Homo sapiens: one gene and its partners. The protein of the gene in region 1 purifies or fractionates together with the protein of each later gene. This does not show direct contact. Each region holds a gene or a part of one and is shown on either strand. Other genes may lie near its edges.

What was found. Proteins that work in one complex are often made in the same cells at the same time.
Region 2: the proteins of SIN3A (region 1) and CSNK2A1 purify together in Homo sapiens (affinity purification with mass spectrometry; 5 studies listed by BioGRID and IntAct, with this or other methods). This does not show direct contact.
Region 3: the proteins of SIN3A (region 1) and ARID4B purify together in Homo sapiens (affinity purification with mass spectrometry; 5 studies listed by BioGRID, with this or other methods). This does not show direct contact.

What each region holds. Positions count from the first base shown.
Region 1 is NC_000015.10:75,448,691-75,457,049, forward strand, and holds the start of SIN3A (paired amphipathic helix protein Sin3a), read right to left. Parts: upstream 3,001-8,359; 5' UTR 2,733-3,000; exon of another isoform or gene 2,670-2,732; intron 1-2,669. UniProt on the Homo sapiens protein: Acts as a transcriptional repressor. Corepressor for REST. Interacts with MXI1 to repress MYC responsive genes and antagonize MYC oncogenic activities. Also interacts with MXD1-MAX heterodimers to repress transcription by tethering SIN3A to DNA.
Region 2 is NC_000020.11:498,791-506,336, forward strand, and holds part of CSNK2A1 (casein kinase II subunit alpha), read right to left. Parts: intron 6,440-7,546; coding exon 6,328-6,439; intron 1,145-6,327; coding exon 1,043-1,144; intron 516-1,042; coding exon 465-515; intron 1-464. UniProt on the Homo sapiens protein: Catalytic subunit of a constitutively active serine/threonine-protein kinase complex that phosphorylates a large number of substrates containing acidic residues C-terminal to the phosphorylated serine or threonine.
Region 3 is NC_000001.11:235,166,402-235,171,725, forward strand, and holds the end of ARID4B (AT-rich interactive domain-containing protein 4B), read right to left. Parts: intron 2,252-5,324; coding exon 2,124-2,251; 3' UTR 501-2,123; downstream 1-500. UniProt on the Homo sapiens protein: Acts as a transcriptional repressor. May function in the assembly and/or enzymatic activity of the Sin3A corepressor complex or in mediating interactions between the complex and other regulatory complexes.

The DNA of each region.
Region 1 (8,359 bases):
ATGAAAAGCACTATGCTAAACTACTGAATGCCAGGGATATAACCTCTTAATTCCAGTTAAAATTCCCAGGTACTAACATCTGCCATGCACAGCTCTCCAGTGTCTTGTCTGCTCCCACTGAAGATGTAAAAAGAATTATACTTCACCAGGAATCTTGTCAAATTACTACACACCTCCTTCCTTAAAAAAGAAAAAAAGTCTTTCTCTGTATGTAAATTATTAAAACCCTCTTAATTACGAAGTGCCAATCTTTCTAAGCTATTTATCTCTGAACAAAATTATAGTATATAAAATAATTATCTGGAGATTATGAAGCATTTATGAAAATGTTCCTAATACAGCAAAACCAGGTTCTTACTTGAATCCTTATAGACTCTTCTGTGTTCCCCAGTATACAGCACTGCAAATCATGGGAACTATATATGTAGCCCAAATTTTCCTCAATGGTCAATCGTTCTCCACTATCTCTCTCAGTTTATGGCATCAGAAAAAACCACCTGGATTTTTTGTCTCCCCACCAATTCTATTACAGCCATCATTTGCTAAACTAAAATGCTATTGCTTTTGCAACTTCCTTAGCAGAGAAGGTAGGACCCACCTACCCTTTTCACATAAATATAGCACAGGGTACCACTCAGGCCCTACTAACCAAAGCACAAATCTAGAATTTCACTTCAGATAATTAACCAGAGGCTCATTTAGACATTACTGCATAAATAAACATTGGTTCCATGTTTATTTTTCTCATGAAAAATGTGAAAAACATTGAAATAATTTCTCTCAATAGGAAAAGATAATGTATCAAGTGAAAGCAAAAACCTCATCTAATGTGGTTCTGCTATCTAAATCTGAAATGCCCTAAGGCAACTCTCCAATACAGGCTGGAGGGCAACGCTACAGAAGTCACATACAGAAGGCTACCCTGATCCACAATTCCACCCTCCTCTGAAATAAAAAGGGCAACAACACTGTACTATGTAGAGTATAAATAGAAAGTGGTCTAGATGGTCTAACATAAGTACATAAAATAAAAAAGAAAAGACTTTTCACCTATAGTTACCTAAATAGCAAATTCTTTAGGAAACCAAGTTTTTTTGGTTGTTTTTTGAGGCGGAGTTTTGCTCCTGTCGCCCAGGCTACAGTGCAATGGCACCATCTCGGCTCACTGCACCCTCGCCTCCCGGGTTCAAGTGATTCTCCTGCCTCAGCCTCCCCAGTAGCTGGGATTACAGGCGCTTGCCACCACGCCCAGCTTTTTTTTGTATTTTTAGTAGAAACAGGGTTTCGCCATGTAAGCCTGGCTGGTCTCGAACTCCTGACCTCAAGTGATCCACCTGCCTCGGCCTCCCAAAGTGCTAGGATTACAGGCATGAGCCACCGCGCCCGTCCAGGAAACTAAGTTTATATAGCAGAACCATGTGCACAATGAAAGCATTCAAAAATACAACTGTCAGAGATATCGGAGTATTTTATTCAAAGTCTGAGTTCTTAAAAAAAAAAAACAAACCCTACTTTATAAACAGACCAGTTTTGAGATTAAAATGTAAATCCAAACTTTCCTGTTATAAATCTCAGCCTTGTAAAGAGGAGGAGCTTCCACTGCCTTTTCAAGGCTAACTTCGTTTAAAGTCCTAACGCACCGAAACAGACGCCAAGTCTACTACCCACCACCCATTGGCTCAAAGGAAGCCCCGCCCCGTACAGCCACGGTAACTGAACATCAAGGGAACCCCAGGGAAGGTTTTCCCTCCGCCACATTTCTAGTCTCTGATGACTCCCTGCCCCTCCCCTACCATCACCACCGCGGATCTAGGGTTCCAGCACCAGCCACGCACGCTCCTACAAGAGGACCTTGGGCACTTCGCCCCAATAGTTACAACCAAGAGGGGAGTGGGGGTGACCATGCTCCCACTCTCCTGGCTGCACGGTGCCAGACACGCTGCATGGAGCAAAGCGGAGAAAGCAGCTCCGGCACAGGGCCCTTGTGCCCCCAGGCAGAAGGCATGACCCAGCCACAAGAGTAAGTCCTGACACCTCCACAGCTCCCAGTCGGCGGGTGCCCCTCCCTCCCCACGGAGACATAGGGCGGGGCAGATCTAGGCGCCGAGACTCCCAGCCAGACCCGACAGCGGGCTTTCCCTAGCACCTCCTCATTGCCAAGGAGGCGGAAACCCGGGGCCTGGGCGGGGTGCAGGGGGGGACGGCCAAGGGGAGTGGCATCACGGATCAGTACGGCCCCTCCGGCCAACCGGATCCCAAGAAGGCGGAGGAACTCAGACTTCACGCCCCCTCCCTGCCGCGCCCTGAATCTACACGCGGGAGACCCCCCCCTACCCCTCCCCGACCCCAGCAGGCCAGAGCGCGGCCGCCAGCCCGAGGCCCCGCCCACCCCAGGAGGAGGGGAGGGGGTGGTCGGCCGCAAACTGCACTCAGCGCGAAGCCGGCCCCGCCCCTTTCTCCACAATCGCACGCGCGCGCCGGCCCCGCCTCTGAGCGGCGGCGCGAGAGCCCGCCCCCCTCCGCGCGCACCGGGACTACGCTCTCCTCCCCCTCCCGCGCGGAGAGCTACCCCGCTCCGCCCCCCACCCCCCTCACACAACCACACACCTCCCGCCCGTCTGCTCTACGGGAAGCCGAGGAGGTCAGCCCCCCCCCCCCAAAATACACACCCTCGAGTCCGGCGTTACCCGCCACCAGGCTCCCGCCCGGCCCCCGGCCCAGCGTGCTCTCACCGCAAAGCTGCTTCGGCCGCTCGTCACTGCGTGTCCCTCTCAGCGTGAGCCGCGAGCTCAGCAGGGAGGCCCCGAGAACGGCGCGGGGCACAGGCCCGCCGAAGCGGACTGCCAGCTACCTCTCCACTAACGAAGCGGTCACAGGCTCCGGTGCCCAGACTGGGAAGGAGGGAGGGAGGGAGGGAGGGAAACTCCGAGGGGGGAAGGGGAGGGGGGAAGATGGAGAAACCGTCTCCGCCGCCTCTACCGCCGCGGCCGCTTCTCTGTTACCCGGGAAATCCCGCCCACTCCCCCGACCCCGCCCCGCAGAGGGAAGACTCAGCTTCGTTCCAATACAGGACGCAATACCCGCCCGTCAAAGACTCAGCCAACCACCGAGGCCTGTCTTATGATTTTCCCGCCCCTTCCCCCTCGACTGGTAGGGGAGGGGGAGCCGCTCTCCTTCTCCACGCCCCTATTGGCGGGGAGCTTCCCTAACTCAACCCCGCCTATTGGAGACGGACTGCTGAAGCCCACCCCCGAGCCCCAACACTATTGGAGGAAGCAGGGAAGCTCTTCCTGTCTCATTGGAGGACACCACATAACCCGCCCTGCAGCGTCTCAGCCACAGGCCTAACAAGTTGGCTCCCGCCTCCGCTGGTCATCGCATTGGAAGGCTACCCCTGGCTCTCCCACCGCCCCAGTAAGGTAAGTAACCGATGTGGGGTAAAATGTCTGTAAGTGAAACAGGCTCCGCCTACCGCACTGCCGGGCCAGGCCCCGCCCCAAGAGTCGGATTGGATATCTTGGCGCTGGTAGGACCCTCCATTGGCCAGGGCGCCCGTCTAGGAAGGAGCTAATTCCACCCTGCGCGAGGAGGCTGAACCTTAGCAGTCCTTTTGTGGAATGTTTACACTAGAGACTGAAGCTCGGAGTTCCAGGGCCCGAGATAGGAGGGGGAGCGGAGCTCATCAGCGGAGACTCCACATCCTAGGATTTGAAGGAAAGGCAGCCCACCATGGAGGACTCCCTCACAAAAAAAATGAGAGAATGAGAACTCATCCTTCCGTCCAGTTATCTTTACAGTTTACATTCTACACACTGCGTCCTTGTAAACACAAATATCCGGAGCAGCTGGCAACTCCTTTCAGCCAAGTAGAGTACAGAACTAAGGTCTGGAGACCTAGGCGGAGAAGTAAACTCCCTAGAGCTGAATATGCAGTCCTAAGAGGGCGGAGATAACCAAAAGAGAGGCGGGCTCTAACAGCCACCGCCCTGGCAAGCCTCCGGAAGGCGGAGCGTGAGGCACAAGGTACTCACGATCTCCCGGGTGGATCTGGAGGCATCCTCAGAACTGAGAAAGGAGAGGAAAACACCAAAACAGGCCACGGCATAAATTAACATTGGGGACATGCCACACTCAGAGAATGGATAAAATTTCCGTAGTTGGGGACATAAGATAACGGCTGTTCACCTTCTCCTTGGCCGGGAGTGTTAATAGCAGTTCCTGTGCCCTCTCTGTGTAGGTAACAGTGCCTCGAACACACAGTGAGACAAAGTGCTTTCAATTCCTAGTTTGCTTTTATTTATTCACCAAATAGGGCGTGGGCCTGACGCTGATCTTACTTTGGGGGGCGCTCTCTCAGCGCCAGGAGAGGTGACGGGATTACGTTGTTACCGCTCTCCCGAATAAGTAGAACCCTCCTCCCAGAGAGCTAAGACCCCAAGGGACACGCCCAGGGAACCCACGCCTAGGTCCAACACTGTCCTCCCTCTGCAATCCAGCGGAAACGGCCAGGAACGAGCTCTGGCAGCAGGTGGGCCTGACTCCAGCGATGGCTTCGAGCCGCGAAACCACAGCAGCGAATTGTGAACTCCAAGGGTAGCCGACAGGTGGGAGCAGCCTCGCCAGTAGCCAAGCCCTGCCCCAGGACAGAGCTCTAAAAATAAGTCAGACCAACGAAGCGACCCCAGGGCCAAACTGCTCGGAGGTTAGGAGGAAGCGGCACTCCAGCAGAACTGACCCACGGCTACTTTTAACTTTGCGCCGCCTTCCACCACTAGACTGAGTACCACAGGGCATTCCCACCATGGTATCAAGAACTACTCAGAACCCAAGCCAGCATTAGGCCGCCCACGACTTCCCGTGAACACAGGGTACCACCTGCGCTAAGATCTCGCCTAAGGGCCCCAGGCCAGGGCACTAGGTTGTCAGAGTCTCAGATACAGCCAACTAAGGACAGCCGCTGCCATGCCTAGGAAAGAACAGACACTTGCAGCGTCTGCAGAGTTCTCGAGCTTAAGCTCAGGGAAGTCAAGGGGCACGGAAATAGCCAAGCGACAGGGTTAGAACTTTAGTACTTGGCCCCGGCCCCGAAAGGCAGATCTCAAACCCAGCAGAACCTCCGGAGTTTCGCTCCCGAAATCCACTCCGCACTGTAATCCCCTGGCTTCACCCCGAAGGCTACTAGGTCTCGAGCCTCGGTGGAACCTTTGTGTGGCTTCTCGGCTCTCCCCGCCCCCCTCGCCAAGGGCGCCGAGCCTAGGACTTCCGGGCGGGAGGGCAGTTCGAAGGAGCTAGGCGGGCCTCACACATGTGCGGAGCGCGCTCAAGAGCGGAGGGAGGCGGGGAGCAAGGGTGGACTTCCCCTCCCAGCTCTCTCCGCCGGAGGAGGCCGGGCTACCCGCCCCACCAATCAGAGGCGGGGGCGGGACCTTGCGCCTCACGTCATCCGCAAGAACCGTCCCTCCTCCCTCCGCGAAAAAAAAATCCTAGCAACTTAAACTCCAGCCCGGCCTCCCGATAGGCGGAGCTCGGGAGAATGTCATCCAATCCACATCCAAGAAGGAGAAAAAAAGGGAGTCTCGCCTAGCCAGTGGAAGACAAGAGAAGGCGGGGCCTCCGGGAGAGCCGGAGGTGGGTGGGAGAGAGGAAAGGGGTCCGCCCCTCAGCTCCCCTGCAGGCGGGTTGCACAAGCCGCCGGCGGAGTAGATAGTAAACAGTCTGGGCCGAGGAGTGCAGGCAAGGGCCGCCCGGCGCTCGGTGGACTGGGCCCCTGCGCCGCCTCTCCCGGCGTCGCCCCGCCCGGCCGGGACGGTTCCCGCCGGCGCCCCGCCTACCCGCCCGCGGCCGCCATCCCGGCTGACAGGCGCGCCCCCCGCGCCCCTCCCCGCCCGCTGATGCATTTCCTTTTCCCGATTCCGAGCGTGGAGACTGTTTTCCCAGTTTCCGACCTTCACTGCCCCTTTCAGGCCACCCCCTCGTGGGCGCGCACACGCCCGCGCCCCCGCCCCCGCCCCATCCGCGCCGAGCGGTCCGCAGCAGCACCTCGCGGGAAGGGGGAGCCCGGCGGCGGCACGGTCGGGGGAGGGGAAGAGAGCAGCAGTCGCCGCCGCCGCCTTGGGGTGGGCGGGGAAGCAGGCAGCTCCATGTTTGCAAGGGGATCAGCCGGGGCCGCGGACGAAGCCGCCGAGTTTCTGGGGGTTTTCCGCACCACCGATGCGAGCTCCTTGCTGGGTCGCGGCCTGACGGGTTCCGGCACCGAATGCTGACTCGACCGCCACGGCCAGGGAGTTTGGAGACCCGGCAGCTCGCAGGGCTAGCGGCGAGGCGCAGGGGCTCTTTCCGGTGGCCTCTCCCGCCCCCGGCCGCCCCTCCCGCAAGTCCGGTGTTGCCCCCGCCCCCAGAGTCCATAACAACCGCGGGCCCACAGTGCCCGCGCCTCTCCGGAGCGCGCCCACCGCCCCCTCCAAGTTTGCGGGCAAAAACAAAACCCTCGGGGCGGCTGCCGCCCTTGTCCAGCGTGGGTAGCCAGGGAAGCCGCGGGCCCCGGCTCGCTCGCTAACTCCAGCTCTCGAGCAACTCCGAGCGCCGCGAGCTCAGTGGGCCCCGCCGACCATGCTCGAGCCGCCGCCCCCTGCCGAGCCCGCACGCCGCAGCTCCGGCCCGGTTCTAGTCGGTGTGCGGAATCCCCCTTTTCTTTCCAGTATTTTTCTTTTTAAAAAAACGGCACAACAGGAGTCGGGGGTCTCCTGCCCGCCCCTTCTCCAGTCCGCCGCCAAAACCTACCGAAACCGACTGCTCGGTGAGATAAACTAGGCTACACGGCCGGCGCAGGGACGACCCCAGGCCAGGCCCACCCCTCTCCCACGGCTCCGGCCAGGCTGGGAAACACACACACTGGCGAGCGGGCGGCGCCAAGAGCTCTCCTTCCTGGCCTGTCCCTCGCCTACCTCGGCCGCGGAACTCCGAGCCTCCCCTCAGCTCGGTCCCAGGGCCCGCAGGGCCCACACCACGTCGGGCCGGCCAGACCGAGCGGCCGGCGGACTAGCCCCCCAAACGCCTGAGATTGGGGGGACCAAATTAAAAGCAGCTGTTTAACATACCTTCCGAGCCAGGCGAGGAGTCCTGAATGGGGGGGAACGCCCCCCACGGGCTATTGGCTCCCCGGCGCTCACGTCAGTCACCCTGGGCCCGCCTCCGCCCTTCGCCCCGCCTCTTCCCCTTCATTGAACGCCCCCTCCTTCCAAAAAATATAAATTAATTAATTAAACTAAACGCGAGTGGGAGACGCATCCGTGGTAGAGGCCCATATAGCTCCCTCGCCGCCGACTCGAGTTTCTTGAGGTCCTCGGACTGGGGGGAGGCCGCCTGGGACTCGGAGATCCGCTGGGTGGACGCGGAGGACGAGCCAGCGGAGCTACCCGGCCCCAACTTCCTTCACACACACAACCCATTTGGAACTAGGTAGGAGAGAAGGGTAGGAGCACCCTAGTCACTGGCTGGAGTGGGCAGACTCCTGTGGCTGTGTGACCTAACCGTGTTCGGTCCGCTCTGTTAGGCGACTAAAAATGAGTGATGCAAACAGGAAGCCCTGCGTCCGCGGGCAACAGGCACTTGCCTGAGCACCTACTGTGGGTGAGGCAGACATTCATACGTACCTGCTGCTGGGTGCAATTACAGACTGGATGACATGCTTACTCTACCCCTCCAAGGGCTCCAGATTCAGCCGAGGAGATTCTACGTAAGGAACTAAGGCAAGGCAGGAATGTGTATGAAAATAGGAATGTGTATGTAAATAGGAGCTCAGAGAAGAGAGATTCCTTTTCGCTGAAGGAGAATTGGGAAAGGTTTCATGAAGGAGGTGGCATTCAAGTTGGGTCTTAAAGATTTCATCCAGCAAATTGGAGGGGCAGGTCATTTTCATCAAAGGACACAAAGGGGTGAATGCAAAAAAGGACCTTCATATGTGGCTGTAGTAATAAAAAAGGAGGGGTGGGGAGATGGAACAAACAGTTTAAGACTTTTAGTTGAGTAAAATTCTTGGACGTGCGCAGCAGAATGTGCAGGCAGCACGGTCACAAGGCCCACAGACCCAGAACTATAGTGTAAGATGTTTGGCACCCTGGCAGAAAGATGGGTTCTGACGATGCACTGAGAGAGAAGTGCCTATAGGCAGCAAGGGGAGGCCCAGAGGCTGTTGTAATACTGCGTTTGGAGACTGCAGAAGTGCCTCTTGTGGAAGGAATAGCTGGGGAAAGAGAAGGCTTCTTTTCTCTATCAAAGCCACCCAATCCGAAAGCTTTCCCCACCTTCAGCAGCCCTCAAGTCAAAGCTTTGACTCAGATCCTTCCTTGCCTCATTTGCT
Region 2 (7,546 bases), on another chromosome or scaffold:
TGTGTTATGGCAGAATTTGACATTATCCTTCCTCGATCCCTGCCTTTTAAGATCTATAGCCCACAGTTTATGAGGAATCCTAAGAAATAAGCAGTCCCTACTTTTATACATACAATATATTTCTTCCTGAACACTATTGTTTAAAGCGAATTGCCATATGGCCAGATCCTAAGTGAACGTGTGTTACTGCCTTCATTAGGTTGGACATCAGCAGAAACTGTCAACTAAGTAGTGAGAAGTCAATGTGTTGGTCATTAAAAAGAACATTAAACAAATGGGCAAAATATCAAGATGCAGAAAGTGGGCACTGCTTATATAGGAGTTCTTCTATCTTAAAATTTGCACTGTAAGGATGAAAAGCTTTTTAAAAACAAATGCGAAGCAAGCTCTTCTAACAGCATCATCCCCAAAGGCTATGTGGTCTAAAAACCCACTAGCCCGAAACAGTTGGTTATATATTATACCTTGAAGTCTGTGTTGTTTACGTGTTCAAAAACCAAGGCGGGGGTTCGTGACTAGGGGAAAAGAACAAAAACAAAAACACACATTAGCAATAGCCCTGACAGCTTTAATGGGGACAATGTTTGCGGATGCTGCGTGGTGAAATTTGGCAGTCCTCGCCTCAGTAGTAAGAAACCCTCTATTGCTACAAGCCCTCCCCGCTCTGATCATCACCGCACTTAGGTCATTTTTGGGATGGATTTCAAACAGAAGACATGGAGCTGAAGTCTCACCAGGCTCTAGGCAGCCCGACAATGCGCCCATCGCCCATCGGCATCGGACCTGAGTTTGCAAAATGGATTAACACATTTCAGTTTCCAGTGCTATCAGTCTCTTAGCCTAGAAGAATAAGAAATAGTCTGTGGGTGGAGGTCTCTTTGAAAGAAAGACCCAAGCTAGTTAAATGGTATATCTGATTAAGCACTTTCAAAGCAGGACTTAATGATGAGGGTTGGGGGAGGGAACAAAAAGAGGCCAGTTGTGCTCCAGGTCAAACACCATCTCAGCTCTGGCGGGCCTTGCTAACACCTACTATACTCACCACAGGGTCTTTTACAATGTCTGCCAGTGTGATGATGTTGGGACCTCCTCTCAAATTCTCCAAAATCTTTATTTCACGCTTAATTTTCTTCTTTTTTACTGGCTGAAAGGGGAAAAGTACATCAGCAAAAAAAAAAAAAAAAAATTTTTTCAGAGTATTTCAACACGTAGTGTAATACATAAATGATAAATGGCTTACTTATGAGCACACCTTGAAGGAAGAAAATGTGTCACATTCGTCTCTGAATCCTTCTCCTAGCACTGTGCCAGGTATTCTGCAGGTACTTACAAATGTTGAATTGAAAGAAAAAAAGATTTCTATTCCAAAGACCAGACACTTCTGCAGAATTAGCATTTCAATCATCAGTCTTGATGTTAATGTTTTAAAACATGTTAAACATGTTAATGTCTTAAAACCTTACAAAGTAGCAATTTAAATCGTTAGTAATACTAAAGTATATCAAACTTTTTATCAATTAGGATGAAACATGGGCCCTTTCCATTTCTTCCTCTAATTAGGGCCAACAACAAGGATGGCCAAAACATCTTTGTGTAGCACAACCCTGAGGGTAAAGGGTGAGTCTTGGAGTCACAATGCCCAATGTGAAACCTACCTTTACTACCTGCTGGCTGTTAATGGCAAACTACATAACCTCTCTAAGCCTTTCATTAAGTGTAAAATGAGTAACAAGAGTACCCATCTCATAAGATTGTTGCAAGAATCAAATGAGGTATTCGAAAGATTTCGGAATATGGCTGAAACATAACATAATAATAACTGTCTAGCCTGATCACCAATGCTCTTTTTTTTTTTTTTTTTTTTTTGAGACAGAGTCTTGCTCTGTCACCCAGGCTGGAGTGCAGTGGTGCAATCTTGGCTCACTGCAACCTCCGCCTCCTGGGTTCACGCCATTCTCTTGCCTCAGCCTCCCGAGTAGCTGGGACTACAGGCACCCGCCACCAGGCCAGGCTAATTTTTGTATTTTTAGTAGAGACGGGGTTTCACCGTGTTAGCCAGGATGGTCTCGATCTCCTGACCTCGTGATCTGCCTGCCTCGGCCTCCCAAAGTGCCAATACTCTTATAAATGAACCCCTCCATTCTAAAGAGTATTCTGCAGAGCATATCTTAAACATTCCTTTGTCCTTACCCATTCTTTCCACATCTGTTCTAGTATGGAATCCTTTTCATTTTTTTCTGAGGAGGGCCTTGGTCCCACTGCACCTCCTTTATAAAGCCTTTTTTTTTTTTTGAGACAGAGTCTTGCTCTGTCGCCCAGGCTGGAGTGTAGTAGCATGATCTCAGCTCACTGCAACTTCCGCCTCCCGGGTTCAAGCAATTCTCCTGCCTCAGCCTCCCGAGTAGCTGGGATTACAGGCGCCAGCCACCATGCCCAGCTAATTTTTGTATTTTTAGTAGAGACAGGGTTTCATCATGTTGGTCAGGATCGTCTCGAACTCCTGACCTCATGATCCGCCTGCCTTGGCCTTCCAAAGTGCTGGGATTATAGGCATGAGCCACTGTGCCTGGGCTTATATTATAAAGCCTTCTCCTGAATAGTCTAAAACAGTGCTGGCCCAAAGGAAATATAATACAAACCACATGTGTAATTTTAAATGTGTTAGTAGCCACATCAAGAAAATTTTAAAAAGGACAAAATTAATGTACTTTATTAATCTAAAATCTTAACATATAAATCAATATAAAAATTATTAATCTATTTTACCTTTTTTTGTATTAAACCCTTGAAATCTAATGTATTTTACTCTTACAGCATATCTCAATTCAGCCCAGCCATATTTCAAGTGCTTAACAGCCTCATGTGGCCTGCGTGCCTGCTGTACTGGACTGTGCAGGTCTTTTCCTAGGGTGTTGGTCACCTCAGACTAGATGCACTGCATATAACTCTTAGAAGTTAAGTACATCTCATCTCTTCATTAACAAGATTGGTGGTTACTAAAGTTTGATGACCAACAATCACCTGGATTTTTTTAATATACAGACTCACAGAACCCACCAAGATTCACTAAATCAAAATCTTGAGAGGGAAACGGGGGATTTATTTTTAGATACTTTCCAGGCTGATGATCCAGGTCCAGAAACTACCAAATAATACTATAAATTCTTTTAACTTTGTCTTAAGCCTCAAGCACATGATAGCAGAAAGCAAGCAGATTTTGGAAACATTGACAGTTCTCAAAACCTGGCTTTGTGGTTGTGCAGTGTTCAGAAAAGCATTTAAATGTTTCTCACTGCTGAAAGGGACTATACTCGCCTGTTAGTGATTTACATACCACAGTTAGAACAGGTCCAATGCAAAGTGGTACCCAATAAACAGAAGCTATTTTACTAATGACTTCCATGTAGTCCATTGAATTCAACCCACGACCTCTTACCCAATACAATATCTACCTAAGAAACAAGATAATATAAGTCTTCTCTTCCTGCTTCAACTATTCAGATCTTTATAAACTGTTATATTATCTGGGAGATCTTTCCACCCTGCAGAGACTAACCCAACAACTTACCTCCTGTTTTCCATTAACCCAACTGCTGGTTTTTTAGTGGAAAAAAAAAGCTTCTGGTTGACAAAACTACTCTACAGAATGCTTCAAATCTATAAACTTAAAAAGCTGGTTTGTGACAGACCAGGCAGCTGACTCAGGCCCGAATTTAATGCGATCAATGCAACTTTTGTCTTATTAAATAGGGGAGATTAAAAATTTTAAATATGGTTTACAAAGGAAATTCATCTATACTTACACCACCTACCCACAGTTACAGTAAAATATACAATACAGTTAGAAAGACTGAGCTGAAAAAAATCTTTCTAAATCACCCTTCATTCAAAATCATCAAGGGCTCACAATTACCTAGAAGAGATAGTCATATAATTTTAAGACTGCAAGGAAATGCAGAGATTATTTTTTCCAGGCCTTCGCCAACTTAATCTCTCTTTCCAAGTTCAACTCCTATGTATGGTCACATAACATCTTTCACATGAAATATTTCTCTCACTTTTCCCTCCTCCTCTTTTCTTATCTTGGTGCACTCTACAGCCTGCTTCCCTTCACCACTTCCACCCAACACCTATCCAAATCCTCCTCCCATTCAGCCTGAAGACAGCTCCTGGGAGCTTTTCCTAACTACTACCCTCTTCTGAACTGTAGACCCACTATGCATGCTTTTCATGTGGCTCTAAATAATAATATATCACCTCATTCTATCATATACCTTTCCATATGAATATCACCATACAATCACAAAGAACTCCAGTCTCCAACGTATGTATATATACACACAATTTTGTGTTTGATCCTTTTTGTTTTTTGAGACAGGGTCTCATTCTCATCGCCCAGGCTGGAGTGCAGTGGTTTGATCATAGATCCGTGCAACCTTCAACTTCCAGGCTCAAGCGATCCTCCCACTTTAGCCCCTCGAGGACCTGCGACTAAAGGCACATGCCACCATGCTCAGCCAACATTCTTTTTAATAGATGGATAAACATGTCCTAGGTTAAAAGGACTACTATGGCTAGTCACCCACATGTTTTGATTTCCAACCTAGTTCTCTTTCTACATATTTCAAGACAGATATAAATACTTAAACTCTCTGGTTCTCAAAGGGCATGTGAAGCACCCCAGCAATGCACAGGAATACTGTGGAACACTTTACATTTTTGAGGAAGACACATCAACCCATCGTTGAATCTGCCAGACACTGGGTGCACTGCCAGCTTGAGGTGGTTCGTAGTTTCAACATTAGATTGTGTTACACTCCTCGTGATGGATTGTGTTATACTCCTCGCGATGGCATATTTTTGTGAAGCTGGGTTTGCAGTAGTTGCTGTGGTAAAAAGCAAGTACTGCACAAAAATCAATGACAGGAAATGAGGGTGGTGGTGTCCAACCAATGACAACATTTGAAAAGCTATGCAGCAACAGGTCTACATAACCCAACAGTAACAAATTATAGTTATATAAGAACAAATTTAACTTTTTTCTTTTAATTTATGTGAATAACTTTTTAAATGGCTACCAAGTTGCTAAGATATAAATACTTAGCGGGCAGGCGCAGTGGCTCACGCCTGTAATCCCAGCACTTTGGGAGGCCGAGGCGGGCGGATCACCTGAGGTCAGGAGTTTGAGACCAGCCTGACCAATATGGTGAAACCCCGTCTCTATTAAAATTACAAAAATTAGCCGGGCATTGCTGGCGTGCATCTGTAGTCCCAGCTACTTGGGAGGCTAAGGCAGGAGAATCGCTTGAACCCAGGAGGCGGAGGTTGCAGTGAGCCGAGATCGCGCCACTGCACTCCAGCCTGGGCGACAGAGCGAGACTCCTTCTCAAAACAAAAACAAAAACAATAAAAAAAACAAAACTTACTTAGCTATTTGGACCTTGCTACTTAATACAGAGAACTATGAGGTATTTCTTGACTTAGGAGTACCGTGAAAAATTAAAGACAGTATAAGTGTTATAAATTGAGAAAGTTTGGAAACTTCTACTTTTCAGTGTCAAATATGAAAAAGTTCCTGTGGTAAGGAACTATATGCTAAGTTCCCAATATATGACAGTGCACAGCATAGTTATAACTAAATTAAAAGTTGTATATTGGTCTCCCAGAGGCCAAATCTGGCCTGTGCATTGTTTTTTTAAAATCTTGAGCCAACACTTAAAAGTCAGGAAAATTCATATACAAATATAAATTTCTGGCTTTTATTTGCAAAACAGAGTATCAAGCAACAATGGACTTGCATTACTGCAGGGCAATCATCAGCTTCAGCTGAGAAGCAGCTAACTCCTTTTGAAGAGGCATGTGTTTCCCAGTTTGTTTCAGTCCCTACCACTCACATCACCTAAGCAAGGGCAATTACACCCGACTAGCTGCACTAATATCATCTGTCTGTCCCCCTCGAGTCCTGTGACTCCTCATCTTTACAAAGTAGAGGCAATGATTTATTTATTGAAAACAAAAGCCTCATTATATAATGAAAAGTAAAGGAAATAAGTATTAGGCAATAACTGGGAGAGAAGAGACTGTACCTTTGCTCCCTTACTCTGCCACAACCTAGCTATATGAGTCAACTCAAATCACTTCTCTTGCTTCAGTTTCCCGATCTGTCAAATAAGCAGAACTTGTTCTATTGAGTTCATAGGATACAATAAAATTTTATTTATTTGCTTTGGCACCAAAAACCTTTTAAATGCTGTTTTAAAAAAGTCTTCAAAACTACTTTTAAAAATCTATATTCCAAATACCTCTGAAATTATCTCTTGTACTCACCTTGAGAATTTTAACAACAACTTTTTCATTATTTGTGATGTTGATGGCTTCAAATACTTCACTGTATTTACCTCGGCCTAATTTTCGAACCAGCTGGTAGTCATCTTGATTTCTGTGGACACAAACAAAATGACTTATAAACGGTCAAATTATCAGCATCAATTCAAATTACAGGAATCTATTACCAGCAGCTGTAATAGAAATAAGAAGTATTTCAAACAATTCCCAAATAGGTTTTTTTTTTTTTTTTTTTTTTTTTGGAGATGGAGTCTCACTCTGTCGCCCAGGCTAGAGTGCAGTGGCGCGATCTCTGCTGACTGCCAGCTCCACCTCCCGGGTTCACACCATTCTCCTGCCTCAGCCTCCCGAGCAGCTGGGACCACAGGCGCCTGCCACCATGCCCGGCTAATTTTTTGAATTTTTAGTAGAGACGGCGGGTCCTCACCGTGTTAACCAGGATGGTCTCGATCTCCTGACCTCGTGATTCGTCCGCCTCGGCCTCCCAAAGTGCTGGGATTACAGGCGTGAGCCACCGCGCCTGGCCCATTGTATTTTTTTTTTTTTTAAATTAGGCCAATTAAAATACGTGTGTTTCAAATCCTAGAATTAGAAAAACTTATACCTTTCAATTATTCTTTCTAATCCCAAACTGTTTACATCTTTATTGGCACATGACATGGAGCTGGCTTGTATTAAGGTTTGTTCTAAATACGTTTGTCTCCAACAAGAGACAGCTTTCCCCAAGAGAATAATTTTTTTTTTTTTTTTTTTTTTTGAGACGGAGTCTTGCTCTGTCGCCCAGGCTGGAGTGCAGTGGCGTGATCTCGGCTCGCTGCAAGCCCCGCCTCCCAGGTTCACGCCATTCTCCTGCCTCAGCCTCCCCTAGTAGCTGGGACTACAGGCGCCCACCACCACGCCCGGCTAATTTTTTTGTATTTTTAGTAAAGACGGGGTTTCACCGTGTTAGCCAGGATGGTCTCGATCTCCTGACCTTGTGATCCGCCCGCCTTGGCCTCCCAAAGTGCTGGGATTACAGGCGTGAGCCACCGCACCCGGCCGGAGAATAATTTTTATATATTCTTGTCCCTTAGTGCTTGGTCCAGTGTTGGCACTTAGCAGGAACTAAAAACATTTTGCAAGACTGTTTCAATCTAGCCACACTTTGGCAGCAGCTGATTTTTAACAGGCCTCTTTGAAGGTAAATGGCTTTCAAATGTAT
Region 3 (5,324 bases), on another chromosome or scaffold:
TAAAAGAATGCCTAGGCTGGGTGTGTTGGCTCCCGCCTGTAATCCCAGCACATTGGGAGGCCAAGGTGGGTGGATCACATGAGGTCAGGAGTTTGAGACCAGCCTGACCAGTACGGTGAAACCCCGTCTCTGCTAAAAATACAAAAATTAGCCAGGAGTGCTGGCAGATGTCTATAATCCCAGCTACTCGGAAGGCTGAAGCTGGAGAATTGCTTGAACCCGGGAGATAGAGGTTGCAGTGAGCTGGAGATTGCGCCACTGCACTCTAGCCTGGGTGACAGAGCAAGACTCCGTGTCCAAAAAAAAAAAAAAAAAAAAGAATGCCTAATACATTCCTTATCTGATTAATGGACTTTTAATTTTCATAGGTAGAATCTTCCTTTTTTTGTGTATCAATTAATCCCCTGTGATAATACGTGCTGGATATGTATGTTCCAGTCAGTCATCACATACAGAAATGAACTAAAATTACTAAATCTTTTAGAAACAAAAATCAAGGATTCACAAACTATGGCATTTTATTTCAGAGCCTTTGCTTACATTTGTACAATATATTACATAATTCTTCATTGTTTGCAGATCCTAATATATACTTTATAGCTTTTATTCTATAAGCTTTTTTCTTCAACATTTTGCTGTCAACAAATCTTTACAGTCCTGTACAAATTTGAATAACTTGAAACCATTTTCAACAAAATTAGTTACTGTAAGCACACACTACAAGACTGAAAATGCTTTTCTTAGAAAAGTTGAATGTAAAGGATTCTGACACGTTAGCATCTACAACAAAACGCATTGAAATTCCCACGTCGTATTGCCAGGAAACAAAGAAAACATGCCAGCCCCATCCAAAAAAAGTACACAGAACTACAATTAAAACAGTAAAACAGTCTGTACAATAAAGTACTGTGTATTAACAGTGCCAGATATTAAATAGCTTGAATGAACACATCCACAATATACAAATGTCTTACAAAGGTGAAGAATTAAATACAAGTGCCAAACAGAACAGAGATTGGAATCATACAACATAAAGTCAATACAAGTGAAAACAATTTTGCATTCATTTTGGATTTTATACAAGGCATTTAATTTTATAGGCCTACCACCCCCATTAGCTATTTATATTTAAAATAACCACCATCCTTTTGAGACAGTTCCTATCAACAATCTTGAACCATACTAATACATTACTTGTTCCTGAAGTCCTTTTGTTGTAGCTCATAATAAAATAAGCAATACAAATGAATTATCTGTATTTAAGGGAAAAGAAACATTTACAAGAAAACACAAAAATATAACTGTTATAATTCATTATGAATAAATATACACTTTGAACTGGCTAAGTACAATCTTTATACATTGTTTAAGATTTAATACAGTTTATTAGCCATTTTCTTTTTTCACACAATGTATATCAAAATTAAAAAAAAATACTGATTTATAGAAAAATGGCAAAGTACAGTAGTTCCATTCCAATTTGAAGGGCCATGAAAAGCCACTGCAAGACCTTTTAGCCTAATTCAAACCTGTAAACATGTTCAGTCTTTTTTAAAGAGAATCTTTAATATTTGGTTACCAGGATTGATGTCTAATATCCTGTTAACTGCAGGTTTTGAATTTATTACATGTGCTTGACTTATACAATTAAAGCCACCCTAAGGTGACTTGCTTTAAAAAACAATTACCTTGTACAAATGAAAATAGGTTCATATTTTTTCATAAATAAATGGAAAAATATCAAATGTTCCAGCTTTAACAAAATACAAGGGAATACATATACAGTAAGTTATCTTAACATGTTCTGACCCACCCCTTAACTATGCTTACTGTATTGTCTCTACAGGCAGTGAAAAGCCTCCATTTGCCACAGTGGAAGGCCTTCCAGTTACCAGACACACAATTCCCAGACAAGTTGGAAACAATTATTGCTTGAGGAAAAGCAGTTCATTGTACTTTTTCTTCATAAAAAAGTGCACTTAAGTGCCAAGTCAGCTTGTCAAGAAACAATTTTTAAATATAAAATAGTGCTTGTCTGATATTTTTTTGTGCCACTGTGCAGTATAAAAAAAAAGTGGCCCTCAACAGCCATTAAGTGCAAAGTGCTTTAGCAAGTCCTGCTGTCACCTGCACTCAACTGACATTCCATTTTGTGATGCGCTGGACATTGACGGTTCAGCTAAAGTTAACATAACAGCAGCTGTTATGGAACTGGATGAAGGTGAAGAGGAGGATGAGGATGTAGCAGCACCTAAGGAAAAGGGAGACCAAACCAAGAGCTTAATAAAAATTTATGTCTAACAATAGACAGAAAATACTAGTCCTCTGAACTAAAATTCCGCTATATTGTCCAAAATCATTTAGCTTACAACAACAGTGGTCAATTCTCACAGTTCTACGATGTGAAGAAAGGAAAAGCTAGTGTAGCTCAAGAAGCTAGACAGTGCCCAACTACAGAAGTAATGAAAAGGACAGACCAGGGAAGGCTCCTGCGTGGGTCAAAGAGGGAAAGAACTGTGCCTAGTCTACAAGACACAGAAATAAAATACAGAATACACTTTTTGTAACAGTGAAACAAGTATCAAAACAGGAAAAATCTGCAATCCATCCAAAAATCATTTGTCCCCTCCTAATCCCTCCATCTTTCTGTACTTAGGAGTTTTCTTGTACATGTAAATGGTGACAAGAGTGGGAGGCTTAATTGCTTCTTCAAGTTGGATCAAAACAGTGCATAGCTCAACTGTTGCATTCTCCGCCACTAGGTTTACAAAGCAAATAACACATTAGTTATTTTCATCAGAGGAAGTCTCTCACTGTTTCCTTTTTTCGTTTTTTTTTGTTTGTTTGTTTTTTGAGACAAAGTCTCGCTCTGTCTGTCGCCCAGGCTGGAGTGCAGTGGCTCGATCTTGGCTCACTAAAAGTTCTGCCTCCTGAGTTCACGCCATTCTCCTGCCTCAGCCCCCCCAGTAGCTGGGACTATAAGCGCCCGCCACCACGCCCGGCTAATTTTTTTGTATTTTTAGTAGAGATGGGGTTTCACCATGTTAGCCAGGATGGTCTCGATCTCCTGACCTCATGATCCGCCCATCTCAGCCTCCCAAAATGCCGGGATTACAGGTGTGAGCCACCGCGCCCAGCCTGTTTGTTTTTTTGAGACGGAGTCTCACTCTGTCGCCCAGGCTGGAGTGCAGTGGTGCGATCTCGGCTCACTGCAAGCTCCGCCTTCCAGGTTCACGCCATTCTCCTGCCTCAGCCTCCTTTTTTTTTTTTTTCCTTTGAGATGGGGGTCTTGCTCTGTTGCCCAGGCTGGACTGCAGCAGTGCAATCTCAGCTCACTGCAACCTTTGCCTCCTGGGTTCAAGCAATTTTCCTGTCTCAGCCTCCTGAGTATCTGGGATTACAGGCATGCGCCACCATGTCCGGCTAATGTTTCTATTTTTAGTAGAGATGGGGTTTCGTCATGTTGGCCAGTCTGGTCTCGAACTCCTGACCTCAGGTGATCTGCCTGCCTTGGCTTCCCTAAGTGCTGGAATTACAGGCGTGAGCAATTGCGCCCGGCCTCTCTGTTATAAATTAGTGTTCATAAATTAATATTTTTAAATACATGCACAGATTTAAAAAATTCATTCAGTACAGGGGTAATAGGATAGAAAAGCAAATCTCACTCTCATCCAGGAACCTCCTAATCACCCAAATTCCCTTCCCCATTGCTACCAGTTGATTCATATTCATTACAACTCTAGAAAAAAGGCTGGCAAAAAAACTACCCCAGGGGCAAATCTGGCTTACTTGTCTTTGGAAAGAAAAATTGTACTGGAACACAGCCATGCCTATTTGTTTACATATTGCCTATGGGAGTTTTCACACTTACCATGGCAGAGATAAGTAGTTTCTACAGAGACCACATGGCCCACAAAGCCTAACATATTTATTGTCTCTTTACAGAAAATGTTTGCAACCCCTGTTCTACAGGAATTTTATCTCTAGAATCTAGAGATATGATATGCAAATTTAAAATATATAGATATAGCAACACCTTTAAAAACATAAGTGGAGGCCGGGCACGGTGGCTCACACCTGTAATCCCAGCACTTTGGGAGGACTAGGTGGGCGGATCACAAGGTCAGGAGATCGAGACCATCCTGGCTAACACAATGAAACTCAGTCTCTACTAAAAATACAAAAAATTAGCCAGATGTGGTGGTGGGCGCCTGTAGTCCCAGCTACTAGAGAGGCTGAGGCAGGAGAATGGCGTGAACCCGGGAGGCGGAGCTTGCAGTGAGCCAAGATTGCACCACTACACTCCAGCCTGGATGACAGAGAGATACTCTGTCTCAAAAATTAATAATAATATTACAAAAATTAGCTGGGCATGGCGGCACGCACCTGTAGTCCTAGCTACCCGGGAGGCTGAGGCAGGAGAATCGCTTGAACCGGAAGGCAGAGGTTGCAGTGAGCCAAGATCGCGCCACTGCACTCCAGCCTGGTGACTGACCGAGACTCCGTCTCAAAAAAAAAAAAAAAAAAAAAAAACCACACACACACAAGTGGAAGCATAGTTCAGTGTCTGACTTTTTTTTAAACAATATATTTTAAGAGATTGTTCCATATCAGTACATACAGATCCTTTTCTTTTCAAAGTTGAGTAATATTCTACTATATTACAACTCATAACTTATATATTTCACTACACTGTTCCTGCATTGGTTTTAGTTTTAATTTTTTTGGTAAGAATGATACCTTATTTGGGCCAGTCGCAGTGGCTCATGCCTGTAATCCCAGCACTTTGGGAGACTGAAGCAGGCGGATCACGAAGTCAAGAGATCGAGCCATCCTGCATCCTGGCCAACATGGTGAAACCCCATCTCTACTAAAAATAAAAAATTAGCTGGGCGTGGCAGCACGCTTGTAATCCCAGCCACTCGGGAGACTGAGGCAGGATAATCGCTTGAACTCAGGAGGCGGAGGTTGTAGTGAGCTGAGATCGCGCCACTGCACTCCAGCCTGGGCGACAGAGCAAAACTCCATCTCCAAAAAAAAAGAATGATACCTTATTTGATTTGCATTTCTTTGGTAACCAGGATAAGCATTTTCCTATGGATTTTTCTTAAAATAGTATTTAGGAACCGACTTTTAATGCTAACCCAGTAGAGAGGCTCTATTTAGCAAAATCATTCATTATAAAGAATTTGTGGTGACTATATTTACAAAACATTGTTTAGAAGGAGTTTCTGGATAGATGTCTTTTTTTTTTTGAGACAGAGTTTAGCTCTTGTTGCCCAGGCTGGAGTGCAATGGCATGATCTCCGTTCACTGCAACATCT